2 linked regions of the Homo sapiens genome follow. The protein of the gene in region 1 interacts with the protein of each later gene in a biochemical or structural test. Each region holds a gene or a part of one and is shown on either strand. Other genes may lie near its edges.

The links.
Region 2: the proteins of GABBR1 (region 1) and JAKMIP1 form a complex in vitro, tested with the Homo sapiens proteins (one study listed by BioGRID).

Annotation. Positions count from the first base shown.
Region 1 is NC_000006.12:29,624,521-29,640,537, reverse strand, and holds the start of GABBR1 (gamma-aminobutyric acid type B receptor subunit 1 isoform a precursor), read left to right. Parts: upstream 1-7,354; 5' UTR 7,355-7,688; intron 7,689-7,755; exon of another isoform or gene 7,756-7,841; coding exon of another isoform or gene 7,842-7,856; intron 7,857-8,152; coding exon 8,153-8,237; intron 8,238-8,936; exon of another isoform or gene 8,937-8,938; coding exon 8,939-9,142; intron 9,143-9,148; exon of another isoform or gene 9,149-9,894; coding exon 9,895-10,080; intron 10,081-11,430; coding exon 11,431-11,451; intron 11,452-12,524; exon of another isoform or gene 12,525-12,746; coding exon of another isoform or gene 12,747-12,891; coding exon 12,892-13,052; intron 13,053-16,017.
Region 2 is NC_000004.12:6,099,435-6,114,932, forward strand, and holds part of JAKMIP1 (janus kinase and microtubule-interacting protein 1), read right to left. Parts: intron 13,564-15,498; 5' UTR 13,417-13,563; coding exon 13,288-13,416; intron 6,534-13,287; coding exon 6,039-6,533; intron 1-6,038. UniProt on the Homo sapiens protein: Associates with microtubules and may play a role in the microtubule-dependent transport of the GABA-B receptor. May play a role in JAK1 signaling and regulate microtubule cytoskeleton rearrangements.

The sequences.
Region 1 (16,017 bases):
CTATTGCAGCAAAATGAACAAACAAATCCCCTAGCAACCAATTATATACACACATTATGATGCATACGTTTTTCAGATTAGTATGAATAATTATTTGTAGATATTCATACCAGTATATACTTAATTACACGTTTAATTAAATATAATACTTATTTTGAGATCTTCAAAATGCTCATTAAATTTGTGTTTATGAGAACTGAACCTTTTTTTTTTTTTTTTTGGAGACAGTTTTGCCTGTTGCCCAGGCTGGAGTGCAATGGCACAATCTCAGCTCACTGCAACCTCCAGCTCCTGGGTTCAAGCGATTCTCTTGCCTCAGCCTCCCGAGTAGGTGGGATTACAGGCATGCACCACCATGGCCGACTAATTTTGTATTTTTAGTAGATGGGTGGTTTCTCCATGTTGGTTAGGCTGGTCTCAAACTCCTGATCTCAGGTGATCCGCCCGCCTAGGCCTCCCAAAGTGCTGGGATTAAAGGCATGAGCCACGGCGCCCGGCAGGAGAACTGAACCTTTTCTAAGTCTTTTAACATGACCTCATTATCCTGTAGATGAACGGACAAAGAAGCTATTTTCCTTTTTGTTTCTTAGGTTAATCTAGCATTTAATTACATTGTGTTCATTCACTTATTATATAAAGGTGTACTTATTGAGAAATTATTTCTAGAGGCAACTTCACAATGTCAATGTTGTAATTTGGTTATTGGCTCTGTGCACTCCTGAGACAGGGGTAGGATCCCCACTGCCTCAGGGATTCTTGTGTGTGAGAGTGGTAAGTGCTAGTGCAGGTACTCATAGTGTGGCTTTTTAATTTCACTGAAGTTTTGTGACTCCCAAACTGGGCTCACCTGTACATGCCTGTAAAGACATGATAGAAATAGCTTCATGAGCTTACTTTTATTGGCACAATAAACCAAGGCCAGAACTGCCAAGAATGTACAACTGCTATGGTCTGAATGTTTGTGTTCCCCCAAAATTCATGTTCTGAAACCTAATCCCCAATGCAATGTGGTATTAAGTGGTGGGGACTTTTGCAAATGAGATTAGTGCCCTTCTAAAAGAGGCCCCAGGGAGCTTGTTTGCCCTTCCACCATGTGAAGACACAGCTAGATCGCAGATGGCAGATGGCAGTCTATGAGGAAGCCAGCCCTCACCAGACACTGAATCTGCCAGTGCCTTAATCTTGGATTTCCCGGCCTCCAGAACTGTCAGAAATACATTTCTGTTGTTCATAAGTTACCCGGTGCAAGAGATTTTGTTATGGCAGCCCAAACAGACGAAGACAGCAACCAAACTAGGATTGTGTGTGGGGAGCAATAGAGAGGGTTTATTAACGAAAGATGTTCCCTTACTCTCTCTCTTTTTTTTTTTTTTTTCCTGAGACGGAGTTTCACTTTGTCGCCCAGGCTGGAGTGCAGTGGCTCGATCTCTGATCACTGCAAGCTCCGCCTCCCAGGTCACGCCATTCTCCTGCCTCAGCCTCCCAAGTAGCTGGGATTACAGGCGCCCACCATCACGCCCAGCTAATTATTTTTTTTGTATTTTTAGTAGAGACGGTGTTTCACCGTGTTAGCCAGGATGGTCTTGATCTCATAACCTCGTGATCTGCCCGCCTTGGCTTCCCAAAGTGCTGGGATTACAGGCATGAGCCACCGTGCCCGGCCTACTCTCTTACTTCTTTCTGGCCCAGTGATTCTGAGTGCCTGTGCCTATCAAGACGGGAAGAAAGAGAACACACAAATGGAAACTGAGGGGAAGGATCAAACAGTTTCACAAAAATATCCTATTTTAGTGATATTAAATATGATGCAAAGGATTCAAAACCTCACTAAAAAGCCAGAGTGAATCCCAGAGTGTAAATAACTTCACGTTTGAATAATAAACCTTTGCCCTATACATTTTTCTAAAGAGCAAGAGCTGTTACAGGACAGAAAACTCTCCCAGAAGACAGGTCTTTCATCCTAACCCAAGAGGACATGAACATCTTCCATTCACCCAGTGATCACCACTACTTTAGATGAGAGAATAGAACTGCAGTTTGACCCTTGACAGAAAATGCCTTGGAGCCGGGTGTGGTGGCTCACACCTGTCATCCCAGCACTGTGGGAGGCCGAGGTGGGCGGATTACGAGGTCAGGAGATCGAGACCATCCTGGCTAACACAGTGAAACCCCGACTCTACTAAAAATACAAAAAAATTAGCCGGGCATGGTGGCGGGCGCCTGTAGTCCCAGCTACTCGGGAGGCTGAGGCAGGAGAATGGTGTGAACCCGGGAGGCGGAGGTTGCAGTGAGCCGAGATTGTGCCACTGCACTCCAGCCTGGGCAAAAGAACAAGACTCCGTCTCAATAAAAAAAAGAAAGAAAGAAAGAAAGAAAAAGACTTGGAGTGGGAGTTGGGTGAGAGAAGTGCCTCAAAACTAAGCCTCTCAATGCAGTAGAAAGAATTTGAAAATAGGGTAACGAACTTAAGTTCAAATGTTGGCTCTGTCAGCTTTATAGCTGTGTGACCTCTGATTTGCTTCTTACTTTCTTTAAATGGTAGTTTACTAGGCTCAGTATAGAACATGAATATCCACTCTGTGTGGTTAGGTGAGAATTTAATGAGATACTCCCAAAATGTACCTAGCATCTACCTGATCATCAATCAAGTGAACTACGTTGGTTAATATGTTTTCAGGGCTCCCAGAGTGTTAAATTCTGGGCTATATGCTCTCAGGGATGGATGGAAGATGAGGCAGAAGAGAGAAAAGGAAGTAGAAAGAAAGTATGGGAGGCCAGGCCCCGTGGCTCATGCCTGTAATCCCAGCACTTTGGGAGGCTGAGGCGGGCAGATCATGAGGTCAGGAGTTTGAGACCAGCCTGGCCAACATGGTGAAACCCCGTCTCTACTAAAAATACAAAAAATTAGCTGGGCGTGGTGGTGGGGCGCCGGTAATTCCCAGCTACTCAGGAGGCTGAGGCAAGAGAATTGCTTGAACCCAGGAGGCAGAGGTTGCAGTGAGCGAGATCGCGCCACTGCACTCCAGCCCGGGCGACAGTGTGAGACTGTCTCAAAAAATAAATAAATAAATAAAATAAAAATAAATAAATAAGAATAAAAAATAAAAATTATTAAAAAAAAAGAAAGTATGGGAACTAAAATGAATAAGATTTGTCATTTTCCAGTAATCTGAGTAGGAACTCCACTATCTCTATGAAAAACCGTCAAAAACTACAAAAGGAGATGGCATTGCCAAAGGCACAAATTGTACAGAAGTGAGAGAAGGATGGGATCAAGCCTGGGGATCCTTCCAGAGGAAAGAAGTTTTGTGCTTGATGTAAAAGGAAAAGAAGGAAGTAGATTGATTGTGGGGAGGATGAAATTAGGATACTCAAGTAGTGGTTCTGGAAGGACCTCTACAAATATCCTGAAAAATATGGCCAGGAATCCTGGCAGTGACATTGGAATATGAAAAGATGTGAAAGGGGGAAGTTGTAGCTACTGGTGGAAAAAGGTGAGTGGTTTGTATAATGAACATAATTGGAGCCCTTGTCTGTACCCTCAAATGCCTCTGCCTCCCAAACAAGTAACAGATTTTAGCTATACTGATGCAACTTGCTAGGAAGGTTTTCTTTAAACCTTTATAAATCAGTTAAAAATGATTTATAGAGGAGACACTTGTAAAACATTTGAATAAAAGTTGAACAACAAATATGACGAAAGAAAAGTGTGCAGGCCCCGCACAGTGGCTTATGCCTGTAATCCCAGCACTTTGGGAGGCTGAGGCAGGTGGATCACCTGAGGTCAGGAGTTCGAGACCAGCCTGACCAATATTGTGAAACCCTGTCTCTACTAAAAATACAAAATTTAGCCAGCCATGGTGGTGTGCACCTGTAGTCTCAGCTACTCGGGAGGCTGAGACAGGAGAATCGCTTGAATCCGGGAGGCGGAAGTCGCCGTCAGTCGAGATCACGCCATTGCACTCCAGCCTGGGTGACAAGAGTGAAACTCCGTCCCCCCACCAAAAAAAAGAAAGAAAAAAAAAGAAAAGTGAGGGTGGAGGGAGGGAGAGCACGACGTGCGCGCACCCTCTCCCCTTGTCCACTGCTGCCGCCTCCTTCTTCTGCCGCTCCTGGTGCTGCTTGTGTGCTCGTTTGGAGCGGACCTGGTACCTCTTTTGTGAAGCGGCAGCTGAGGAGACTCCGGCGCTCGCCATGGCCGAAGAAAAGCCCAAGGAAGGAGTCAAGACTGAGAACAACGATCATATTAATTTGAAGGTGGCGGGGCAGGATGGTTCTGTGGTGCAGTTTAAGATTAAGAGGCATACACCACTTAGTAAACTAATGAAAGCCTATTGTGAACGACAGGGATTGTCAATGAGGCAGATCAGATTCCGATTCGACGGGCAACCAATGAAACAGACACACCTGCACAGTTGGAAATGGAGGATGAAGATACAATTGATGTGTTCCAACAGCAGACGGGAGGTGTCTACTGAAAAGGGAACCTGCTTCTTTACTCCAGAACTCTGTTCTTTAAAGACCAAGATTACATTCTCAATTAGAAAACTGCAATTTGCTTCCACCACATCCTGACTACTACCGTATAGTTTTCTCTATTCTTTCATTTCCCCCTTCCCCATTCCTTTACTGTACATAAAGTAACTGGTATATGTGCACAAGCATATTACTTTTTTTTTTTAAAACTAAACAGCCAATGGTATGTTTTGATTGACATCAAGTGGAGACGGGGCGGAAAAATACTGATTCTGTGAAAATACCCCCTTTCTCCATTAGTGGCATGCTCATTCAGCTCTTATCTTTATATTCCAGTAAGTTATTTTGCTCTCACTGTTTTAACAACAACAACAAAAAAACAACAACATAAAAATCCTTGCATACCTTGTTCAATTGGAGAATTTTAATGTTTTTCATTTATCATTGTAAAACCAAGGACAATTTTATAACTTTTTTGTACTTAGCTGTTACATGCAGAGCAATCTGTCTTTAAGTAGGGATAAATTACTCTAAAACAAAAAAGAATCCTAGATAGTTTTCCCTTCAAGTCAAGCGTCTTGTTGTTTAAATAAACTTCTTGTTTAAAAAAAAAAAAAGTAAAAAAGAAAAGTTATGCAACAATTAATGGCCCAGAGGCAATCCTTGTTAACATTTTGATGCATCTTTTAGCTGTTTTTTTTTGTTTTTTTTTTTTGACTGAGTTTGACTCTTGTCACCCAGGCTGAAGTGCAATGGCATGGCATGATCTTGGCTCACTGCAACCTCCGCCTCCCGGGTTCAAGTGATTCTCCTGCCTCAGCCTCCTGAGTAGCTAGGATTACGGGCATGCACCACCATGCCTGGCTAATTTTGTATTTTTAGTAGAGTTGGGGCTTCTCCACGCTGGTCAGGCTGGTCTCGAACTCCCAACCTCAGGTGATAAGGGAAGGGGCACTATTGACATTTATGGTTGGGGCAGAGGTGTAAGATATTCTTCAAAGCACTACCTACATGTTGAAGAATTGTTCCTCACCCAGATTCTCAAAAGTCCCCCAGGACATTCACGTAGTGAAAACCTGTGTTTAATTATCTGAGCCTATAACTTAATACAGTTTTAAAATTTTTTTTTAAATATACAGTGAACTTTCTAGGAATGCAATTATAGTTGTGTGTAAAATTAGGGAAAATTAACTTTGCTACCAAGAGTTGTTCAACATTTTGTTAAATCACTTCATTGATGGCAACATGCTGGAGGTAGTTGAGTCACCAACTCAGCACCTGGATCAGCCTGTGTTGGTAGCAGTTTCATCCCCGTGGTTCTGTGAATAGGTGGAAGCATCTGCTTACTCCATCAGGACTTCTAGGGTAGTCGGGCCTTGGCACTCACACATTAAAATACTGTTTATGTTATTTTATTGCAAGTTACTTTTCTTTCATTTCCCCTTTACGTTACAGAAAGGGAAGCATTTTGCTTTCTGTTTAAAGTTGTGTATGTAGGTAGGTTATATCATCTATGACTTTCTCTCCCTCCTTCCCTTTCTTTTTGTTTGAGATGGAGTCTTGCTCTGTCACCCAGGCTGGAGTGCAGTGGTGCGATCTTGGCTCACTGCAACCTCTGCCTCCCGGGTTCAAGCGATTCTGGTGTCTCAGCTGGGATTACAGGCGCACACCATCACACCACGCTAATTTTTCTATTTTTAGTAGAGATGGGGTTTCGCCATGCTGGCCAGGCCAGGCTGGTCTCAAACTCCTGAGCTCAAGTGATCAGTCCGCCTCGGCCTCCCAAAGTTCTGGGATTTCAGGCGTGAGCCTCATCTATGAATCTCAATTTAGGACAGTAAAAGTGTCATTACAAAATATTTATTGTAAAAAAGGGTTGGAGGTTGAGAATCTCAATTCTAGTCAGTCTCTCAGTGTTTGGTTTCTTCCTACCATTTTTCCCCCTAGGACCAGCCAGAAAGCAGCTTTTTTTTTGTCCCCCCCAACAAGGAGCCCACTGTTTCCTCTCCCAGCCCAAACTCAGGCCTACGAACAACAACAGCACAACACACACACACACACACACACACACACACACACACACACACACACACACCCCTCCACTTCAAGGTATAGCCAAGAGCTTCTGGAGCCGTCAAAAAGGTCTGTACCTGCTGTCTTTAGAGCTTCCAGTTTGCCCTTGGTCAAGAAATACTGTTTGCTAGGCTCTGCTGGAGTACATCAGGTAATACTGGCTTCTAAACCACCCTGAGGTTCTTTTCTCTTGTCCTTTTACTCCCTTCGTACTTCAATTTCTCTCCTTGATGTCCCCCTCCCTGTTTTGTTTTTTGCCTCCAATCCGTTCTGCGCGTTCCCTGCAGAGCAGGCGAGTAGCAATGCTGCTGGACCATGGAGCTGCTCTAGTCTCCCAGAAATCTCTTCTACACCCAACCCTTCTTGCGCTTAGGTGGTCCTCAGTCCCCCTCCCCCACCTCCTTCTGACCCAGGCTTCTTTCTCGCCCTCCGGTCGCAGTTCTCCTGGGCATCTGCCTCTGCCTCTCTCCTCTCACCCGGATCTAGGGCTGCCTTCTCTTTGTGCAGCCGTCTTTCTCCACCTTCATCCCAGACTCCCTGTCTCAGCGCCAGCTCCTCTGCCTTTGGCTCGGGTTCCCTCTCCCCCACCCCAGCTTCCAGTTGTTTGGCCCGCAGGTCCCTCGGCAGTGACCGGCGCCCCCCGACGAGTGCGTGTGCACCAGGGCACCTCCCTCTCCCCCACCTCTCAGCCCCGCGCCTCTCCACCGCCCGCCCCACCGCGCTGTGGGCGGTCCAGGGCGGGGCTGGGATCCGGGGCGGCTCCCGGGGCTCGGGTTGTGGGAGGCGCCCTCTCCCCGGTCTTCCCCTCTCTTCCCCCCGCCCTGCCTTCCCTTGCACCCTCCTTCTTCCCTCCGCCCGGGAGCTCTCCCTGGTCCCCGGCGCCGCCTCCTTCCCTCCCGGCTCCCCGCTCCCCGCTCCCGTGGCTGCCGCCGCCCCGGGGAAGAAGAGACAGGGGTGGGGTTTGGGGGAAGCGAGAGAGGAGGGGAGAGACCCTGGCCAGGCTGGAGCCTGGATTCGAGGGGAGGAGGGACGGGAGGAGGAGAAAGGTGGAGGAGAAGGGAGGGGGGAGCGGGGAGGAGCGGCCGGGCCTGGGGCCTTGAGGCCCGGGGAGAGCCGGGGAGCCGGGCCCGCGCGCCGAGGTAAGAGCCAGGGCCCCGGGTTAGCAGGGCTCGGAGAGGGGGCGCGCGGCGTGGTGGGGGAGGGGGCAGTGGGCGCAGGGCCCAGCTGGGGGAAGCGGGGCTGGGGGAGAGGAGGAACCGCGGGGATGGAATCGGGGAGCGCTGAGGCGGCCGATGCCGGGAGCGTGGGTAAGCCAGGCTTCTGCGAGCCGCGGGGGCCGGGGGAGAGGAGGTGGTGAGAGGTGGAGTCCCGGGAGGGTTGGGGGCCGAGGGAGGCAGGAGGAGGGTGGGGACAGGCTTTCTCTCCTCCTCTCCCCCCACCCCGCGCGGGGCTCCGCCCCCGCCTCCTCCGCGGGGCGCTCTCTTGGTCCCCAGGCTGAGCCCGGTCGGAGCCTGCGAGGCAACCGGCAAGAGGTCGAGTAGTCTCCGGGTGCGGGCCGCGCCGGCGGGGCTCGGTCCAGTCCTCATGGCCGCCTCTCACTTAGATGTTGCTGCTGCTGCTACTGGCGCCACTCTTCCTCCGCCCCCCGGGCGCGGGCGGGGCGCAGACCCCCAACGCCACCTCAGAAGGTGCATCCTTCTTCGACGACCTCCGGCCCTCCTTCGCTCCACTTCCCTTTCCCTGCATCTCCTCATTTCTGGTCCTCATCACTATCCCATCAGTCCCACATATCATCCCGGTCTGGCAACCCCTTCTGCTCGGCCCGACTTTACTACTGCTGACCTCCTTCTGTCACCCCACGTTACTATCCAGCACCTCTTTTCTCTGCCCACATTGCTACACTATACCACCTTCCTGTGCATTTTCTCCGCCTCAATCCCCTTTCCCAGCCCCACATTACTACCTCAATTACTCCCTTTTCTTGGTCCCACTTTGCTGTCCAGATGATCTTATTAGCCTCCCTTTATCCTCCTATCCTAATTCAACTCGAATATCCTCATTTAGCCTTTTTTTTTAAAGAAAAGCTCCACCCACATATCATACCCTTCATGATTTCTTAATTACTTTTCTTTCTTACCTCCACCCAGCACCCTTCCCTCCCCACTTGTGGGTTCTCTCATCAGCTTTAACCCTGGCCCTTTACTCTCTGTCCTTTAGCCAGGGGATCTGTACCTGTCCCCACTCCCACCCTCTAGTGCCCCATCCCTCTTCCTCTGTCCCCAGCCTGCCCACAGACCACGCCCTACTCTCCCCTTCCTCCCACTGGGGAGCCTGCCTTTTCCTCTTTCCCACCATTCCTCTCTGTATGCCTCCCCGACTCACCCCTTAGGTTGCCAGATCATACACCCGCCCTGGGAAGGGGGCATCAGGTACCGGGGCCTGACTCGGGACCAGGTGAAGGCTATCAACTTCCTGCCAGTGGACTATGAGATTGAGTATGTGTGCCGGGGGGAGCGCGAGGTGGTGGGGCCCAAGGTCCGCAAGTGCCTGGCCAACGGCTCCTGGACAGATATGGACACACCCAGCCGCTGTGGTGAGTAGCCTCGGAAGCCCCTCCCCTCTTCAAGACTATTCCTTTTCCTGCCGCAAACTTAGCATTACTGCTTGCAAGTCAGCACTTTAAATCCAGTATACCAAAATTCACAAATACATTTATTGAATGACTACTACATAAGAGCAATTTTGCTCTGTGCGGTTGGAGGTAGTAGAGCTAGCAGCCTGCACAGTTCATTTCATCCTCCCTTCATTAGGCCACTGATCATTGGCCTATAACATTGATAATTCATCTTGTCAGTTATTCTCTTTGAGGATCATTAGTGGCAGATGATGACAAAAAAATTCTAAAATGATTTCATCACATTTTTGAATACCTCTGTCACCAACCCAGAGACCATATGCCCAAGAAACAAAAGCCAGTTTAATATTAATAGAAGCCAACTATAATAAGAAAAGCAAATCTGATTGTGCATCCAAAGTTATATACATCTACATATTTCAAAGCCAGAGAACCGCCCACTGTAGCTGACTTTGAAGAGATCCCATTTTGTGTGCTTATAGCCCCATCTTGGGTTCCTAAAATGGTAATTTTTTTTTTCTTTTGGGAATGTGTGGATGCTTGCACAGGTAAGGGAGGATTGGAAGATAGGTAGGCAAATCCTTTTCACATGTGATTTTCTTTAGAGCAGGATGCTTGTGGACCCAAACCTGCACCTGAGTCCCCTGCTCTTTAAAGGGAAAGAGCCTTCTTCAACTCGCCTCTCTTCTTATTTTCCTATCTCTCCACAGTCCGAATCTGCTCCAAGTCTTATTTGACCCTGGAAAATGGGAAGGTTTTCCTGACGGGTGGGGACCTCCCAGCTCTGGACGGAGCCCGGGTGGATTTCCGGTGTGACCCCGACTTCCATCTGGTGGGCAGCTCCCGGAGCATCTGTAGTCAGGGCCAGTGGAGCACCCCCAAGCCCCACTGCCAGGGTGAGGGGAACAGCTGCCTGCATGCAGCTGATGAGGACGCTTGTGTGAGGATGGGAGTGGGGTGGGAATGGATAATGGGAAAGAATGGAGAGCTATAAAAATGTGGGGGAGGACACTGGAAAGGGGAGATGAAAGTCCCTTTTTCCTCCATCACCTGCCTCAAACTTCCTCTTGCAGTCCCCGGTATCCTCTGTAGGTTGGGGGCTTCCTTCCTTTACCTTTTAAAAAAATCTTCCTGCTCCCGATTCTTAGACCTCACGTTTTCTCTTTTCCTTTATGAATCTCACCTCTCTCACCTTCTTCAGGTTTAAATACTCCAATTTTCCCTTTCTCTAAACTTAGAAATTTCCATGCATCACCCTCTTCTAGAATTCATCCCTCACCATTCCTTATATAATTGATTTATTGTAAAGACTCAGAAATAAATCAAACATTCTACTAAGAAAAATTGAGAAGGGGAGCTCTGGGGGTGGAAACATATTAGGGTAAAAGACTTAAAATTGGAGGCAGCATTATCAGAAGATGAAGAACAACTCAGGGATGGGGTGGGAAGAAGACAGGTCCTTTTCTGTACTTCCTAGACAACCTCCATTATTCCCTAAGGGAATCAGTGTTGTGTCTGTCTACTTTTTTTTTTTTTTTTTTGCCACGTAATTTTACAAACTCTCCCTTTTCTAGGCACCCGAACTCTCTGCCATCTTCTCTCCTGGGATGCAGTCATCCCATTTGTATGCCTCATACTTCCTCTACCCTGGTAGATTCTTTCAAGATCCTTGGGCTTTACTTTCCTCACATAACTCAGTTATTCTGCTTCTAGTTTACCATTTTATTCTGGAAATTGAGAGTCCCATCCAGGGGTGGACTTATGACACTACTGAAACTTAGACTTCAAGGTTCCTCACCTACAGGGCCCTCTTCCTGTGCTCTAATAATATAGAGGGCTCGATGGATATGTGTTCATATGGTAACAGGCTTTTGTAAAAATTGCAGAAATAAGATTTTAACAGCAATTGCTTAAAGCCAATTGTATGTGTAATTTTTTTTCTTAAAGACTCCCAATTTTGTAATATTCAGGCACCACAGAACCAAGATCTGCCCCAAACTTAGCTATTGGCATTCCCGTCTCAAATTCTGTTGTCCTATGAAAAATCGAAGAAGAAAATAAGTCCTGACCCCCTTACCCCCAGACCCACCTTGTTCTTATCCCCAGGCACCCTCCCCTCAGAAACGCAGGCTTCTGCTCTCCCCGGTCTTCAGCATGGACAGGTGTGGGAGGGGGCTGGGGATCAGGCCAGGGAAGCTGGGCGCCAGTGGTAACTCTTCTCTGATCCCCGTCTTTCCTGCTGCCAGTGAATCGAACGCCACACTCAGGTGAGATGAGAAACCCTTACCGCGCGCACTGCAATGCCCTCCCCTTCACTCTGCACCCTCCACCCCCCTGAAATTCTGCCCTTAGGCTACGGGGCGTCGTCCTTTCGCACCTTCCCCAACCCACCCCAGTTTGCGGCCACCCCCTTCCCTCCCTACCTGTTTCCTGCCTCCAGTCCCGGTTTTCCACGAGGCTGCGGTCTCTCCTTGTCCCTGCTTGGCTACACTTCCCTGGGCTCCACCTCCTCCCAGACTGAGCCTCGCCGGTGTCAGGCAGAGCCCAGCAGAGGGCGGCAGGGTGCTGGGAGACCCTGAGCTCCCACCACGTTTTCCCCTGTGGGGTTCCTTGCGACCTTCGCTGGAACCTTTTCCAGCCTGCTGCCTCCTAGGATTTCACCTAATGGACTTTCTCAGCCTGTCCCACCCATCCCAACCCTGGCCAGGCCTCTCGCGCTCTTCCCCACATCTTTTCCTTCCGTGTACCCCTTCCCTCGTCTTTTCTCAATTCCATGTCCTGTCTCCCTTTCTTAGGCTTCTGTCTACCCAGCCCCAGGCTCCCTTCCACGACCCCACCACTCCCTCAAACCAGCCTCCCTTCCGTACCCAACTCGTTCCCTCCAAAACCGTTTCCTCTCCCCCACATCCTCAGTGCTTCACTGTATCGACTCATACTCCCACTTCAGACCTCAGGCGCCAGCCCCGTTTCTCTCCCGTCCCACTCGCATCCTTCCCTTCCTACCCTGGTTCCTCCGTGCTTCAGCCTCCCGCGGCTCCCTCCGCCCACCCCGCCCTCCTGGCACGCCCCGTCCCCATTTCTCCTCCCCTCGGGTCCCCTTAAGTGAGATCCCTCCCTTCCTCTTTCGTTCCTTTCCTCCTCGAGGTTGCATCCCCCCTCCCCTCCCCGCCCCTCCGACTGTCGCTCCCACCTCGGCGCTCGCTTCCCTCCCCGCCCCCTTCCTGCCTCCCCAGCTCCCGCCCGCCCCCCCACCCCCCGCTGCCGCGCGCCGCCCGTGACGTCAGAGCCCCCTCCCAGCCCCACATCTCCCTCCTGCTCCTCCTCCTCCCCTCCGTCGGTCAGTCAGTCCGCGAGGAGAGTCCGCGGTGGCGGCGACGGTGGCGAGAGCCGCGGGGGCCGTAGGAAGCCAACCTTCCCTGCTTCTCCGGGGCCCTCGCCCCCTCCTCCCCACAAAATCAGGGATGGAGGCGCCTCCCCGGCACCCTCTTAGCAGCCCTCCCCAGGAAAAGTGTCCCCCCTGAGCTCCTAACGCTCCCCAACAGCTACCCCTGCCCCCCACGCCATGGGGCCCGGGGCCCCTTTTGCCCGGGTGGGGTGGCCACTGCCGCTTCTGGTTGTGATGGCGGCAGGGGTGGCTCCGGTGTGGGCCTCCCACTCCCCCCATCTCCCGCGGCCTCACTCGCGGGTCCCCCCGCACCCCTCCTCAGAACGGCGCGCAGTGTACATCGGGGCACTGTTTCCCATGAGCGGGGGCTGGCCAGGGGGCCAGGCCTGCCAGCCCGCGGTGGAGATGGCGCTGGAGGACGTGAATAGCCGCAGGGACATCCTGCCGGACTATGAGCTCAAGCTCATCCACCACGACAGCAAGGTAGCCCTGGACATGGGGGTGGGTGGGAGGTGGGGGCTTGCGGGGCAGGGGGCCAGCCAGCTGCACGCGCCCCCATCTGTCTGAGTCGTCTCTGGGATTGCGAGGCAGACCCCTCCCTTGTGTGACTGGCAGGAGATGGGCTGGGGGTGCAGGAGCTTGGGGAGAGTCGCAGGGGCTGGAGGTCCAAGATGAGGGTCTAGGGGCTCAAGATGGTTAAGCATGCTGCAAGGCAGACCCTTCTGCCCCGCTGCGGGAGTCTCGCAGAAGTGTCGGGGTTTGGAGAAACTGGTGGTGGATTTAAGGTATTAGGAGACACTGATCCTCTGAGGGAGTAAACTAACCCTGGAATGGGTTGGGGGTGGAGGGAATGTCAGAGGTGGGGAGCTGGATTGGGGGTTTACATTTACCATGGTAACAAGGTAAAATCTTGGCGTAGGTTGGAGCTGGAAGGAATAGGGACAGAATGAGGAAAATTTTGAGAGACTTGAGAGCTCTAGTTTATTTATCTTAACAAAACAGCAAGGTAGTGGTGAGCCCTACCTGACTCCTTCTCATCCTTCTATTCCCAACCCTGTTGAGCATTCCCAGACTGTGGGATAGATGGCATATGGTGATTGGGGAAGGCTAATGATCAAGAGGTGGGCAGAGGCACTGGGAAAATGAATTGGATTGGGGATCCACATGGGAACCCCCACAATAGCATGGGGATGAAGAAGAGTCAACATACAAGGAGAAGAGAACAGAAAAGAATGGCAGTGGGGGAGAGGGGCAAGGAGGTAGCGTGGGGATAATGAGAGATCTTGGGGCACCTTATGGAACTTGGGTCCTGACCTTCCCTTCCCTTATAGCATTGTGGCCTCTAGGATGTGAGAAGGGAAATGGGATGTAGGGATTAGGGAGGTGAGTTGAGGGAGAGAGAGAAGGTAAGCAAATTTGGGTCCAGGGGTATTAGGGGATAGCTTATAATGAGGTTTTTTTTCCCACCCCTCTCCCCTACATGAATAATTGGGGGTGCAGGGAAGGATGTGACACAGGGAAGGAGATTTAAGATCTCAAATTTATCTTCACTGACATGTGGCCCCAGAGACTTAAGGAATTGGGTTAGGGTGAAATAGAGTACACAAGGTGAGAATTTGGTGATCTTACCAAATATCAACCTTGGGGTGATCCAAGGATTTATATTCATTTTTAGAACATCACTATACACCTAGAAATAGGTGTGTGTCTGGGATAGGTGTGTGAGGGGACAGAAGTGAGGTTGAAGGTAGGGTGCTTGAAGAGAAGAGAGCACAAGGATTATCAGGAGCTTGGCAAGAGAACTTAAAATCCTTTTTGACTGTTACTTTCTCGTGGTTCTCAGCCTTCAGTGTACATAAGAATCACCAGAGGAGTTTGTTAAAAATACAGATTCTAGCTCCTTGGTCAGGGATGAATCCCAAGTATTTATCTGTATTTTTACTAATAGACATCCTATCTTGGTGGATTCCTGAGCTGTAAGCTAACCCCAGAATGCCTATGGGAAGAGCAGCAGGGTACAGGAAAATAATTAGGTATTAGGGTACGGGAGGCAGGAAGAGAAGTAGAGGATCAGATCTGGTAGAGGGTCAGACTTGGGACAGTCAGAGAGATCATTGGTTTTGGGGAGTGGAGTGTGAAGAAAATGACAGGGAGAGATGGGTGCAGGCTTTATGATAGGGGATCACAGGAGATAGGGGAGGCCTGGCTGTGAGCTCAAACTCATCCACCATGACAGGTGATTCCCTGGAGGTGGCGGGGAGCAGACGTGGGACCTGGGAGAAGGGAACTGGAGAACATCAGAGGCATCAAGCGGGGTGGGATGGGAAGGCAGAAGAACCAGAATGTGTCAATTGGAATGAGTCGGTTTCCTGCCTGCAAATCCAGATCCTTGCAAGAGCAAAGAGAGGGAGGAGAACTAAGGAAATCTATTGGGGAGGGGGAGAGAATCACGTGGTGGAGAGAATCTGCAGTGATGAATAGTGTGTGGAAGAGGGAAACGGTTGCAAGAAAAGGTAGATAAGAAATCAGGAAACAAAATGGGGGGCATGCCTTGCCCTGTTGATATGTATCTTATATGTTCTTGTATGTCCTCATTGTTCCTATTAACCCTGTCTTTAGAGAAGTGGAGGGGCACTGAGGGGCTGTGGGAGAAGCTGGGAGCAGGATCTGGAGTAATAGATGTGGGGAGAGTGCAGGAAGGTGGGTCCTGAGAATGGTAAAGATTTACAAAGTTGCCCTAGTGGGAGGCATAAAGAGAAAACCTTCCAATGTTGTTGAGCACTGCCCTTGGCCAGAGTGAGGGTAGGGTGGGCAACAGAGAATTCTCAGTGACTGCTGGTTCTTCAGATTCCAACAGCTTCCCCTGGCTCCCCCTTCTCCAACTTCCCACCGTGTCCCAAATGTCAGGCCTCAGTGGGAGGTAAGCAGGCTCCAGAGTGCTTTCTTTATTTCCTTTCTACTTATCCTCCCCTCCTGGCAACATTTCACCCTCCTTAGTCCCCTGAGCCCCCTGTCTGTGTCCCCTCTGCCCTGGCTCCCCACTGGCTGCCATTTCGTCTTCACATGCATTGGGGTTCCAGCAGCTTCTGAAATGTCATATATCAGTGGGAGGGGAACAGGCAGTGGGAGACCCAAGGCTGGCTCTTCCTCCCCCATTTCCCCTCCTCCCAAGCTTCCTTTCTTCTCCAGCTTTCTGCTTGTTTACTTTCCCTAGCTCCAAGCCTCTCTTTAAGGCACCTCTCAAATTGTCTGGTTTCTTGAGAGTTCCATTCTATTCATTCTCTCTGTTCTTTCCTCATCCTACATTCTTCCCTACTTCCACCCCCCAGTGTCTTTTTTTCTAATGGACCTGTCAAATGTCAGCGCCCAGCAGGAGGGATGGATCACTGAGCGGGACCCCCTACTGGTCTTGTTCCTGTTCTCTCTTTACTTATCACTAGCTCTGAAA
Region 2 (15,498 bases), on another chromosome or scaffold:
ACGCACCCCCTCAGACAAGACTGAAGGACTGTGCGAGAGCACAGATCCATTTTCCACCAACCACCCCCACCCCATCCTTTCTAGATTGTTTTATGCATTTTACGTCTGCATATGTCATAAACCCCACAATACAATCTGATTCTTTTGCTTTAAACAGTCACTTGTGTTTTGAATACACTGAGAAAAAGAGATCGTCTCAGACATTGACTCTCCTTTACCCACTTCTCCTGTTCTTTATTCCCTTCCAAGAGAACTAAATTCCTATCTGGCATTGTTTCTCTTCACCTGCAGAACCTCCTTTAGCATTTTTGGTGGTACAGCCTCTGGCGACAAATAATCTTAGCTTCCTTTTACCTAAAATGTCTTTATTTCACTCTTATTGTAAAATAATATTTTTTGCTTGATGAGAAATTCTGAGTTAACAGATGTCTCTGTTTCGTTTTAGGGCACTTTAGTGTATGGGATGCTACCGAGGGGCACGGCTGCTCCACGTCCTTGCCATTTCTCAGCACTGTTAGCTTTTTAATTTAGCCATCCTGGTGCCTGGGCAGTGTTGTTTCATTGTGTGCTGTTCTTCCTCTTATAAATATGCTCCTTTTAAATGCAAATACAAGATCCACCATTAAACTTTTATCAATCCTATTTAAATTTCCAATTTTTCTTGTTTTAAACATTTTAGAGTTTAATTTATAAATCATGAACTTCGCCGATTTTTAGTAAGTCTTCCAAGTTGTGGAGCCATCATTATAATCTGTTTCAGAACCTTCCTCGCCCAGTAAGGTCCCTCACACTCATTTACAGCTAATCTCCATTCCAACTAGTCCCCGTCAGCCACTATAGATTTGGATATATAGATTTGGCTATTCTGGAGATTTCATACAAATGCAAGCATACAATATGAGGTCTTTTGTGTCTAGCTTCTATCATTTAGCATAATGTTTCTGAGGTTCAGAAATGTTATAGATATTGAAGCATATATCAATATTTCATACCTTCTCATTGTTGAATCACATTGTGTTATATAGACATGCCACATTTATCCATTCACCAACTGAGGACATTTGGGCTTCTCCCATTCGTTGACTATTATAATGCTATAAGCATTCATGTACAAATCTTTATATAGATATGTGTTTTCATTTCTCTTGGGTAGATACTTAGGAGTAGAATTACAGAGTCCGTAGGTGTCCTTTTTTTAGACTTTTTAAGAAACTACAAAACCATTTATCAAGGTGGCTATACCATTTTAAAGTCCTATCAGAATGACGGTACCCATTCCTCCACATGCTAGTCAACATTTACTATTGTCTGTTTTTTTTTAATAGTCATTCTAGTGGATGAGAATTTATATCTAGTTGTAATTTTACTCTGGTTCCCTGATGATCAATGAGGTAGAACACCTTTTCACATATTTGTTAGTCATTTAATTATCCTGTTTTTGAAATATTCTTTCAAGCTTTTGCCCATTTTTGAGTTTTCATATTATTTTATAGTTTTTATAATCTGCACAAAAGTTCTTTGTGGTTATAGGTATTGAACATGTCTTCTCTCAGTCTGTAATTTGCCTTGTCTCTCTTTTATTAGTGTCTTTTGATGAACAATGATTATTTCATGTCCAATGTACAACCCTCTCTGAATAGTATATTTATGTAAATAGTGTACTGTGTCCTGCTTAAGAAATATTTACCATGTCCCAAGATCATGAAAATAGTCTGTTTTCTACTAGTAGCTATATTGTTTTACTTTTTACATGTAGGCCTATGGACCACTTTGAATTAATCTTTGTGGGTAGTATGATATAGACTTCATACTCTATATACAGAGAGTGTGTGTGGTGTGTGTGTGTGTGTATTTCCTGTTTTTTTTTCTTACAGATAGCTGACCAGTCCAATATTGTCCATTGAAAGATCATCCTCTCTATAGTGAACTGCCACGGTATCTTTGTCCACACACGTGAAGATGTACTTCTGGGCTCTTCTGTTCCATTGACGTGTCTCTCTAACCTTCAGCCTACTGTCTTGATTACTGTAGCTTTGTAGTAAACTTTGTTATAGGTTGTATGAAACCTCCAATTTTTCTCTTCTTCAAGATTGTGATTCCACATCCTTTCAATTTTTACATCAAATTTAGAATCTGCTTGCCGATGTCTGCATTTAAAAAGTCTGCTGGTGGCTGGGCGTGGTGACTCACGTCTGTAATCCTAGCACTTTGGGAGGCCAAGGCAGGTGGATCACTTGAGATCAGGAGTTCGAGACCAACCTGGCCAACATGGCAAAACCCCATCTCTACTAAAAATACAAAAAAAAAAAAAAAAAAAAAAAATTAGCCGGGCATGGTGGCAGGCATCTGTAATCCCAGCTACTCGGGAGGCTGAGGCAGGAGAATTGCTTGAACCCAGGAGGCAGAAGTTGCAGTGAGTTGAGATCATGCCACTGCACTCCAGCCTGAGCAACAGAGCAAGACTCAGTTAAAAAAAAAAAAAAAAAAGAGTCTGCTGGGATTTTGGTAAGGGATAGCACTGAATCTGTAGATCAATCATGGAAAAACTGATATCTATACTAAGTCTTCTAATCGATGAAAACGATATCCCTTTCCATTGATTTAGATCTCCTTAAGTTTTTCTCAGCAATGTTTTATAGTTTTCAGGGGAGACATCTTACACAACTTTCCTTAGATTTATTCCTAGGTATTTGAATTTTGTGGTGCTCTACTGTAAATGATATTTTTTAAGATTTCATTTTCTAATTGTTCACTGCTGATATATTGAAACAACTTATTTGTGTGTATGTACCTTGTATATGTAGACTTTGATAAACTCACTTATTAATTCTAATAGTTTGTAGGGTCTTGCCATGTTCTGAATGTGTCTCACAAAAATTCATACATTGAAACTTATCATCAGTGTGATAGTATTAGGAGATGGGGTCTTTAAGAGGTGATGAAGTCATGAGGGCAAAGCCTTTATGAAGGGAGTTAGTGACCTTATAAGAGAAATATGAGCTGCCTGCCTCTCTTTTGTCATTCCACTCCTTCTGCCATGTGAGGACATGGCATTCAAGGCACTGTCTTAGAAGCAGAAACTGGACCCTTGCCAGATAGTGCCTAGATCTTGGACTTCCCAGCCTCCAGAATGGTAAGAAAAAAATTTCTATTATATATAAGTTACCCAGTCTGTGTTATTTTGTTATAGCAACAGTAATGAACTAAAACAGGTGTCTTGGGTTTGCTACATCACAACCATAGCACCTGCAAATAATGAGTTTCCCTTTTTTCTCCCTCTCTAAAGACTTTTTTTTTTTTTTTTTTTTTTTTTTTTTGAGAGGGAGTCTCACTCTGTCGCCCAGGCTGGAGTGCAGTGGCGCGATCTCAGCTCACTGCAAGCTCCACCTCCCAGGTTCACACCATTCTCCTGCCTCAGCCTCCTGAGTAGCTGGGACTACAGGCGCCCACCACTGCACCCCGCTAATTTTTTGTATTTTTAGTAGAGATGGGGTTTCACTGTGTTAGCCAGGATGGTCTCAATCTCCTAAACTCGTGATCTGCCTGCCTCGGCCTCCCAATGAAACTTTTATTTATTTTATTTTATTTTATATTTGACATCCTGGCCAATGCAATGTTGACTAGAAGTGGTAATAGTCAACATCTTGTTTTGACCTTGAACTTGGGTGGGAAATGTTCAATATTTCATCATTATGTATGTTACTTGTAAAAGATTTTTGATAGAACCATTTATCATATTAGAGAAATTCCATTCTTTTCCTGGTTTTCGGAGAGTTTATATCATGAAGTTGAATTTTACCAACAGATTTTTCTGCATCTATTAAGATGACTGACCACGTTTTTCTTTTTTATCATATTATTATGTTGAATTATATTCAGTGATTTTAGAATATGAAGCCAATCTTTATATTTTCAGAATAAACCCAGCTGGGTTATGACTTATTAGCCTTCCTATGTATTGCTGGATTTGATATGTTAATATCTTGCTCGTACTCTTGTATCTATGTTCATAAAAGGTAATCCAAAAGTTTTCTTATCCTGTAATGTTATTGCTTTTGGAATCAGAGTTACACTGGCTTCATAAGTTAGTTAAAATGTGTTCCTAATTCTCTATTTTCTGGAAGACTTTGGCTAGAATTAGTTTTACTTCTTTCTTAAACACTTGAAAGAATTTACTTGTGAAGCCATCTAGGCCTGGGCCTTTCTTCATAGGAAAATTATTCATTACAGATTTAATTTATTTAGGAGCTTTAGGACTACTTAGATTTTCTATTTGTTTCATGTCAGTTTTGGTACATTGTGCTTATTCAAGGAATATGTTCATTTTATCGAGGTTTCAAGTTTATTGGTATATGCTGTTTGCTGTGGTTTTATTGACTGTAGGAGCTGTGGTATTTCCCCCTTTACATTTTTGATATTAGTAATTTATTGTCTCTGTTTTGCTTTATCAATATTGCTAAATGTTTGTCAATTTATCAGTTTTAATTAACTCTTGAATTTGTTGATTTTCTTTATTGATTTTATTTCACTGCTTCTTGCTCTTTAAAATTTCCTTCCTTCTACTCTCTGGAGTTTAATTTGCTGTTCTTTTTCTTTCTTCTTGAGATAGAAGTTTAGATGCTTGATTTTCAGCATTTCTTCTTTTTGTCTAAAATATGTTTTGCTCTAAGGACTAATTACAACCCACAAATTTTGAAATGCGGTCTACAATGATAAAAGTATGTCATGTCCACAGTATTCTGCAGTTGTGGAATAGAGTGCTCTGTCAGGTAAGTTCACGTTGGTTAATTGTGTTGGTGAAATCATGTCTTTATTCATTCTTTGTCTGTGTGTTCTACTGTTTGCTGAGAGAAGCGTGTTCGTCCCCAACCGTAACTGTGGATTTGTCTGCTTCTCCTTTTAGTGTTGATAATTTTTTTCTTTTATACATTTTGAGGTTTTGTTATTGAATGCATTCCCACTGAATTGACCCTTTATTATTAAGAACTGTCCTTTTGTGTCTTTAGTATTACTTCTTGCCTTAGAGCCTTTGACATTAATACAGCCAGACCAGCTTTGCTTTTAGGAAGTGCTTGCACAGTGTATCTTTCCCCATCCTCTTATGCTCCATGTCACCATGTCCTCATAATTAAGATGTCTCTCTTGTAAATATCACTGTTACTCTTTGATCCAGTCTGAAAATCTCAGCTTACTTTACTTCTTAGCCTCCTGCCCCACACAGCTTCAAAGTGTGACAAACGCCCTGAGGGGCAGACTGGTCATGTGTTTGTGGCGGGCCCCCTCCCTTTGTCTCCTACGTCCAGTGAGGGCATGGGAGCTGTCATTCTGCCTTTCCAGCTGGGCTCGCCAGCCTCCCCCTTCACTCCAGGACTCAGGAGGATCTCCTGTGCAGCAAGCTGGCCTAGGTGGGGCTCCTCTGGTTTCCATTGTTTCATGCCCACTCTGAGATGGCAGAAAAGTCCTACTCATCTCTCTGAGGACATCCAATCCTCAGCCCGCACCCAGAATCCACAAATGCCCCAAGGGAAGAAAGCAGCTGGCAATTAGGCCGCCCAGGCAGGGCTCTTTCCCCTTCCCTTTGGAATTTTAGTTCATCCACACTCCACAGCTTCCACAGATCTCCAGTATCTTTCAAAACAGGACTATTTGCAATTTATATGTTTCCCTTGCTGTTGCAGCCAGTTGGCCGGCCTGCCCTGACCTGTGGCATCTTACCTGGAGATGGAAGTCTGCTCATGGTTGTTGAAGTAAATGAATCAATAAATGCCCGACACTTAGATACGCTATCACGAGGCATTTGCAACAACCCTCGCTAGTCTCCATTAAGCTCCTTTGACAAATGGGGAACTGTTCTTTGAGCGGATTACCTGCAGCCCCAAAGCCTCCTTACCACACCTAAGACGGGAGGGAGGTTGCTGGGGCCCCAGTGCTTTGAACAATGCCTGGAGCACAGCAGGTCCTCGGAGCTCCGCATTTCCCCCATGCGTGCAGGGAGGGAAGGCCGCGTGCCCGCGGGCGGGGGAGGGGGCGGCACGTACCAGCCTGCGGATGTCGCGCTCGCACTCGCGCTTGATGCGGTGCACCTCGTCTTGGTGCGCCTGGTAGGCGGCACGCAGGTCGGCTGCCTTGGTCTTGTCAGCCTGCATGCAGTTACTGAGCGCCTCCTCTGCCTGCTTGCGCGCTGCCTTGAGCTCCAGGATCTCCTGCTGCAGCCGCAGGCGCTCTCCATCGAAGGCCCTGCGCGCCTCCTCGCGCGCCTCGGTCAGCAGCGCCGTCTTGACCTTGTCGGCCGCGCCGTCGCGCAGCACGTTCAGCGTGGCCTGCAGCCGCTGCAGCTCGCCCTCCTTGATCTTGGCGGTGCGCGCCGCCTCCTGCTCGTGCTGCCGGATGAGCCCCTCGCGCAGCGCCTGCAGCTCCTTGGTCTTCTCCTCATGCAGCTTGGCCTTGAGCTCCGAAATGTAGGCCGTGTGCCGTCGCTGCTCCTGCTCGCGCTCCAGCTTCGCCTCCTGCAGCCGCTCGCGCAGTTTGCCCACCTGCAGCCAGAGCGGCGAGAGAGCCGGTCAGGGTCAGGGTCAGGGTCAGGGTCAGGGTCAGGGTCACAGCTGGGGGAGCTGGCCACAGCCTCCCCACGCCCAAGACACCCACCTGGGCCCACGTTCCCATGGATTCCCCCTTCGGCAGTGCCCTGCAGGCCTGACCCTCCTGCCAGCCCCACTTAGAATCTCTCCTGCTAGTTCCCTGAGACTTTCCCTGGGGGTGGAAACCCCCTGAGGATGCTGGAGAGGCATTCAAGCCTTTGACATCTCTTCCAGGTTGTAAATTGAGACGACTGCTCAATCACAAAACACACCCTGCAGAAATCATCACCAAGACCCAAAAGATTGTAAACCAGAAATATATTTCCAGGGCCCCATGCGCGGACTGTGGAGTTGGAAAAGACAGACCAGGCTTCTAAGTCCTGGGGGGCAGTGAGCAGGGGGCACCATTCTTGTTGAGTGGGGTCCCTAGCTGGGCTGGGGGCTCCAATGCATCACCCACATTGCCACATGAACCCCTCACGGTCTTGGGAAGGAAGTAGCGTGCTCCCTCTCTTTCTCCCTCTCTCCTCTCTCTCTCTCTCTCTTCCTCTCTCTCTCCTCTGTTTTATCATGAGGCAGCCAAAGATCAGAGACAGTCTGGTGAGCTGCCCAGGGTGAGGGATGAGGACCCTGTGCTACCAGGCAACCCACCCCGCCTTGAGCCTATTCATTTTATCAGCAAACAATTCAAAACATTACTTATAAAACGTCCCAAGGGAGTGTGTTCTTAAAACACTTCAAAATGCTTTCTTTAACCTTTTTGTTTCAAATATCACTCAACACACATTCCACAGGAACGCCTGACAAGCCCTTATTTCCTGAATTCTGCCCGTCTCTGAAGACCTGAAATGAATTGCCTCTGGTGGACAAGCTGCTTCCAGGGAAAATGGCAATGTTTTTCCCCAGACCACACTGTTGATAGCATAGTCACATGTTAAAATTAATTTTAGGTGAGAAGTTTTACAATGGCACCTGAGTATTGATAAATCCTTACTTAAAACAGCAGGTAAAAAAGCAAATAAAACCAACCCAGGCAAACACACAAGATCAACATCTCCTTTCACCAGATACTCACAATCATAGGAATGAAGCCAGGCGACCAGTCCATGTTCTGTCCACCTTACCCTGGGGGCAGCAATCAGCATCTTTTCCTAGTGGATTTAGCAGCAGGAAGCCAGAACTTTAAGTATTTAACAGAATTGTCCCAGTTATGGACAAAATGGTTTTGACTGTTCTCCCTCCTGCGAGGCAACAGTCAAGTCCCTGGTTAATGCCGACAGCCATCTGGGGCCAGCAGGGTCAGATCCAATGAGATCCTAATCTGCTTTGATGAGCTGCGTTTCCCCAGGCAAATTTCTCTGCCTCTATGGTGGCTGATGTTGTGGGTCGACTTGGCTGGGCCACAATGCCCAGTCGTTTGGTCAAACACCAGTCCAGATGTGGCTGTGAAGGTACATTTTATAAGAGATTAACATTTACATCAGTAGACTCTGGGTGAAGCACGGTGCCTTCCACAATGTAGGTGGGCCTCATCCAATCAGTCGAAGGCTTTAAGAGAAGACCGAGGTCCCCTGCGGAAGAAGGAACTCTGCCTCCCGGCTGCACTGGGACTCGAAGCTGCAAGATCAACCCTTGCCTGAATCTCCAGCCTGCTGGTCTGCCCTACACATTTCAGATTTGCCAGCCCCACAACCGCATAAGCCGATTCCTTAAAACTAACGAATAACCTCTCACTCTGTGGGGGGTGTGTGTGTGTGTGTCACAACCTATTGGTTCTGTTTCTTTGAAGAACCCTGACTACACAACCTTCCAGAGCTCCAGTTTCCTCTACTAGGAAACAGGGATGGCAACAGCTGCCCCTCAAAGGCCCGTTGAGAGGAGGAAGATGAGGTGACTGTGGGTGGGTGAATGGAAGTCTGTTGTTATCGTGGTTCTGACTTTCTGCATCAGGGGTGGGCAGCCTCGTGTGAGAGACACAGGTAGAAAGGGGGTGAGGAACATGGAAGGGTGGGCAGAGGCCTGTGCAGGGCAGCCCGGGGCGTCTAGGGGCTGCTTCCTGGGAGGGGCAGAGGTGCTGCTGAGGCTGGTGATCCAGGTGTGTAGGGCAGGGATGGTGACAGAGAGGCAGGGGCCTGGGGACAGGGCCCTGCTGGGTCCCTCCAGCTCTGCCCAAAGCTGCTGAGAGCCAAGCCCAGGTGACATGACCTATGCCACAGAAGCAGCAGAGTGAGGCTGGGGTGACCTCTGATGGGCACAGAGCACTCCCTCCCACCACCACTCCATCCAGCTGAGCAGGCCAAAAAAAGCCGCCCAGCACTTTACCTCCAGGTGCCTCCAAGCTACCCCAAGTGTAGAGGCACCTACACCAGCCGCTCCTCAGCACTTGGACTCTAAATGCAGCCACGGCACAAAGGCCAAGAGAGGGAGCATGCCCTGGGGGTGTGGGGGCTGGCGTGGAGAAATTATCTGAACCACCAGCACCACCCTCACTTGCCACTCCCACTCAGAGAGTGAGTCAGATTCACCCCTTTCCATCCTCATCCTCATCCAATCCAGCAGCACTGGCTCTCCATGTCCAGGCCTGGCCACTTCCCCACTTCCCCCTTGCCCAAGCCACCTGCAGCAGCCCTCCCCGCCACACCCTCCATGCTCAAAGCCCTCTAAATCTCATGGGTACCAGTTCACTACTCTGAAACCATCATACATGTATAGTGTTGAACAAAGAAAGTGGATGGCAGAGGGGGAAGCCAGGTTTCCCACTTGGAGTAAGAGGTTACAGACAAGCAAGAGGAGGCTGAAGGGAGCCATGCGGCAGTGGATGCGTCTTGGGACATCTGTAAGAACTCATGTTTGACTTTGTATGGATATAGATGTCATATATGGAAATATTTACAGGTATGCGTACATACGCAGGTCAGTATACACATATATATTCCTTGTTCTGGCAGCTGAGAGGGCCTAGAAACAATGACACCGCAGCAGTGATGGGCACGCCTGGTGCCTGGATCTTTGTTTCTAATGCCATTCTCCAATAAAAGGAACCAGGACCCCTTAGAGAAACTGCTGGGTCTAGCGCTGGGGTAGGAAATATACAAGATGTGCCTGGGGCACCTTTTTTTTTTTTTTTTTTTTTTTTTTGAGTCGGAGTCTCGCTCTGTCCCCCAGGCTGGAGTGCAGTGGCACGATCTTGGCTCACTGCAGGCTCTGCCTTCCAGGTTCACGCCATTCTCCTGCCTCAGCTTCCAGAGTAGCTGGGACTACAGGCACCCGCCACTGCGCCCGGCTAATTTTTTTATATTTTTAGTAGAGACAGAGTTTCACTGTGTTAGCCAGGATGGTCTCGATCTCCTGACCTCATTATCCGCCCGCCTTGGCCTCCCAAAGTGCTGAGATTACAGGCATGAGCCACTGCGGAGCCTGGGGCATCTTATAATGCCAGAAAGTAAGGAAATGCTCCACAAAACCCCCACAAAACTGCCCCTGTGAAGCCTTGGGTTCTGCTTGTCCCTGCACTATTTTCTAAAACCTCTGATGGAATGTGCCCAGGGCTGCTGTATTGCTGGTTTCCTGTGAGGCTCTGTACCCATGCGACTTGAGGACAGGGTCTGTCTCTGAGTTACTTCCAAACACTTCTCACTCAGCCCAGGCATGGAGCATGCATGCCAGGGGTTTGCAGATGAATAGACAGACACGTTTACCACCCTCCTTCATCCTACAGTGTTCAACAGGGATGCTTTGCTAAAATGCCAGCACTTTAAATGGGACATTGACAGTGATTGTGAGATCATATCAAAGTAACACTTCAATGCAATTGTAAAGTTTGCATTTATGTTTTTTGTACCAGTCAATAAGCACATTACTGAATTCTCAGAGAATTGAAATTCTCCCAGCAGCCAGATGGGTAAAGTCAACCTGAAGCGGCCACATGGATGGCTGGATTGAGAAAATAATCAGCCAGCGTGCATCCAAGTGGAAATTGCCACACGTCCCAGAGGCAGGGAGGCAGCCTGGTAACAGGGAGGCCCAGCCTGGGGTCCGCATGGGCCTGGCTTTCAATCCTGCAATACCACCTACTGTGCTGGCCTCGTGTGTGGGGCTAAACTGTGTCCCCCTGAAAATCATATGTTGAAGTCCTAACCCCCATGACCTCAGGATGTGATTCCATTTGGAGATAGATCCTAATGAGGTCATTAGGGTGGGCCCTAATCCGATTTGCCTGGTGTCTTTGTAAGAACAGAAAATACAGACATGGACAAACACAGAGGAGAAAGCCATGTGAAGACACAGGGAGAAGGCGGCCGTCTGCAAGCCAAGGAGAGAGGCTTCAGAAGGAGCCAATCCTGACACCTGGATCTGTGGCTGCCAGCCTCCAGGACTGTGAGACAGCAATCGTCTGTTGCGTAAGCCGCCCTATCTGTGGGACTTGGTTACTGCAGCCCTGGCAAGCTAACACACCTGGGCAAGTCCCCGCCCTCTCCAGCCCTTGGCTTGCTCACCTGTAACACGGGGGAAGCCACACCTGATCTCTCAGGTCACTGCCAGGGTCATGACACCCTCTAAAGCACCTGGTGCTATCTGCACAGTAGGCATGTAAAGGTCACCCTGATGGTCATGTGAGCGTATGACAGGCAGCACCCAGGCCCTGTGTGTGACTGTCTCATTCATTCCTCAAACAACCCAGGAGGCAGACACCTTAGAGGTCCCCATCTACAGATGGGAAAACTGAGGCAGGGGGTTACACAGCTTATAAGACCTCAGGCAGGGGTGGTGGTGGAGAGGGGATTTGAGCCCAGGCAGTGTGATATGAGTGAGCAGCTTTCCCTGTCACCACAGCTGCTGTAGCTATGTCCAGATACAAGCTGCCAGCCCTTACACCCCCAGCCAGTCAGCCCCAGCCCCAGCCCCGGAGGTGACCTGGCCTGTTGACCTGGCTAAAGGGTGAACAGGTCAGCATCACCAGCATCCATGTCTAAAAGAGGCTGGATGCACTCGGCCTGGAATCTTGAACACCTAGGGATGGAGACAGGTGCATCTGTCCCCAAGTTCCAGAAGCCCAGTCCCCTGGTCCAGAACTCAGCCTCTGCTCTGTGTGGCCATCCTGAGCTGGGGTTGCAGCCAGATCCCAGGCCCCAGCCCCGTCCCCACCTGGAAGCTGGATCTGGCCCAGCACTCCATTGGCGACCTGAGTCCCAGCTCAACAAGACAGGGACGCCTGCTGCAATTCCCCAAGCAGCCTCCACCCGTCACTCCAGGTACTACAGCAGGAGCCAGAGGGCACCTTCGGGGCTTCAGATAGACCTTCAACTGCTCGAGCCACCCAGGAGCAAGCCTGCATCTCCATGCTCTTTCTGTGCTCAGCCTGGCTGGCAGCTCCTCTCTGGGCTCACAGAACCCTGGGCTTGCTCTACCCTCAAGCCCACCCAAGTCAGAAGCAGGCCACCAAATAGGACTGCAGCTGTGCCTGGGCACCAGATGTTGATGGGGCTTTTTATTGCATCCATTAATCAGATCCTCATGACCATCTTAAACCGGACAGCTATAATTACACCATAATAGCTGGTGTCAGATGAGAAGACAGAGGTTTCGGAGACTTTTAGTCACCTGGCCAAGATCATGAGACCAGTTAGCGGACAAGCTGAGGTTTGAAACCGGGTCTGCCTAGAAAGCCTGTGCTCCTCCCCTCTGTGACAGCCCGTGCTTTAATTAGACTGCCAGCACCCAACCAGGCACTGTCCTGACCAGCTCCAAAGCTCAAATCTGCCTTAGGAGAGAGGAAAGTAGCTCATATCGCAGAACCAGGCTCTGTTCCAAGCTCTTTACCTAGCAGAGCCCTGAGTCCAGACCACAGCCCCATCACATCTAAGAAAGCACATATATGGCTTACAAGACCTCATGGCAGCATAAACCAAAAATAAACTTTGAAGCCTCCTGACCATCTGAACGGATCCCTCCTCTCCACCAAGGGTCTTCCAAAGTTAACCTGAAAAGCTAGTTCAGGCCATGATGGGAAGCGGGGAAGTGGGACATACCTCACTATGCCCTACTCCCTTTTGGAATTTAGGAAAAGCTGGTACCGCCATGACCCTGCTGAATTCAGCCTGAGGATGCCTTCATGCATGAGTTCCTATATGATGAACTGCAACCTAACTTAGCAGGCAAACTAACCAAAAGCCTGACTTAGGAGCATTTTTAAACAAATAGCCGAAGCTCAGCCAATCACAGCAGCTGAGCATCAGTAAATCACAGGTGACCCATGGATCAAGGGTCAAGCTGTAACTGATCAAGTAGCCTCAGCACCTCTTCTGTTTTCTGTCCCCATAATGAATGCTGTCTGACCACATGCAGGTTTCTCTGAACCTGTTCTGTTCTGGGGACTGCCCCATCCTCGAATCGTTCTTTGCTCAGTTAATCTCTGCTAAACTGAATTTGTCAAACATTTTTCTTCTGACAACCCCCATCTTGCAGGTAAGAGAAATCAAAGAATGAGGTGTTCAGTGGCTTTTTGAAGGTCACAGCAAGCACTGGTAGGGCCCAGACTCCTGCCCAGCAGTCTCTGTACTGCAAAGGGACAGACAGCAGGGCAGAGAGGTGAAGTGCCCCCCCTCGGCCCCCCTCCTGGAACAGGCTCTTCACACACATGCCTCAGAGGCAACACTGCCCAAAGGGACATTTGCAGCCCAGCCGCTGCTGAGCTGACGCCAACCCCCACCTTGCTTTTTTCCTGCTGGAACTCGATCTGAATGCTGGTCAGCTTGGCCCGCAGCTCCTCGTTGGCCATCTGCACCGCGTCCGTCTCCATCTCGGGCTTCTCGCCCTTGCTCCGGCCTTTCTTCGACATGCTTCCCCTTGGGTCAGAGTGCTGAGATCCTGCGGTCCACACCTGTTCACGCACGCCAGCCAGCAGGCGTGGCTACCAGCTCCACCGTGCTAACCAGTCGCGCAGGACTCAGCTCGCCCTCCGAGGAAACCACCATCACTTGGGATCCTGAAGGAAGGAGGGAAACTGAGTTAGCAGAGACAGAAGGGTGGGGAGCTGGTGTCCCTGCCTCGGGCACCCTGGGCCAGGCACCTGCCTCATCTGGAGCATGACCTGCCACTCCCAGACTGACCTAGAGCCTTCCCGATGGGGGCTGCAGCAGAATCGCTTGGAGGTTGTTAAGGCGTGGAGTCCTGGGCCCACCCCTAGAGAATCTGATTTGCATTTCTAACATGCTCCTAGGTGAGGCTCCCAGGTGACCACACCTGGAATAGCTTCAGTCCATCCTGCTCCCATCAGGATGAGACCAGCCCATCTCAGCAGCCTGCAGACCATGGTCTGCCAACATCAGTGAGCCTGTGTCTCCCAAGGTGCTTCTTCCAAAAAGCAGGGCCCTGGGCCTCATCCAGAGCTTGAAGCATGAGGAGCATGGTGGTCCAGGGAATCTGCATTTCCATCCACAATCCCAGCAATTCTGGAGCAGGGCGTGAGGACCACACTTAGAGAAATGGACTTTTCGATTTCAGAGGTTAGTGGTTTCCTTCCCTACTAGGTAGGTGATATCACCCAGTGTTACAGATGAGGAAACTGAGACACACAGAGGTTGACTGCTGGTGATGTCACTCAACTACTGAGAGAGGAAATAGTATGAACCTGATCAAGGTCCACAGCTGGAAGCGGGTGAGCCAGGACTGAGCCTAATCACCGCCCCAAGCTGCCTCGGAAAGCCCGCCTCTGCTCTCCCTTCCCTTCACCACGTCTCCTTCTCGTTTTCCATCTGACAAACTGTAATTGACTTAGTTCTCATCTATGTCCCCTACACGAGGATGGGTTCCCAGTAAGCAGGGCCTGGGCCTGCTCTGCGCCTGCTGTGTCCTCCATGCCTAGAACAGAGGGCAGCACGTAAGGATGCATTCCATCAGGATCCGCCAGGTGCGTGAATGAATGAGTGAGTGAGTGACAGCAGAAGAGTCATGAGGCACCCATCATGTGCCAGGGCCTGTGACGGGAGCTGGGAATCCTGTCCTATCATCTTTGGAACACCTGGTGAGAGAGGATTTTACTAGGCCCATTTTAGAGATGAGGAAATGAAAGCACAGAGAGGTGAAGTCAGCTACCTAAATCCACACAGTCAGTGAGTCGTGGCGTTGGGATTAGATTATGTAGGGAATGAATGCAGAGCGAGGAGGGAACACTCCAGTGTCAAGGAATGCTAACTTGGGAGGTTGGGCAGATGAGACAAAATTGGCAAGGAAGGCCATGAACAGGACAGAAGGAGAGAAAGCACCAGGGAGGCTACAGAAGATGGTGTGTCTAGAAGAAGGAAGACTCCAACAGCGGGCAGCCCCAAAGAGGTCAAGGTGAGGACCTGAAGCTGGACATTGGATTTGGCCTCCTGGAGTCCATGTGACCTCAGCCTATGGACAGGAGATGCAGAAAGTACAGGACAGGGGTGCCCAGGGATGGTCTGGGGTGGGGTCTCCACAACACCAGTGCATCCAGCAAGTTGCAGATGCTCGGTGGCCATGAACTGAAGTCAGGCGGGACCTGCTAGCCCTGGGGCCCTGGGACATCCCTCCAAGCTACAAAATCTGGGAGGCAGTGATGGAGGTCAGCTGCTTTCCTCCTGAACAGGAGAGAGGGGTGTTTCTTAACACACCATGAAGGATTATTCTGGGCTAATCAACATCACCGCTGATCGATTCCAGAAAGGTACATTCTGTCTTCAGACAAGTATGAACTCCATTCGCCTTGATCTGACTTAGAGCTTGATACATAATTCATTCCTCACCTCGGCTGACCTGCCGCTTTTATAACCACAGCAGTTCTCAGAAATCAGCCTTCGAGTCTGAAGTGCACCTCCCCATGCCCTGATGGGCAGGAAGACACAGAAAATACAACACCAAAAAAGGAAGCTTGCTCCTTTTTATTCCTTTCTGTGGC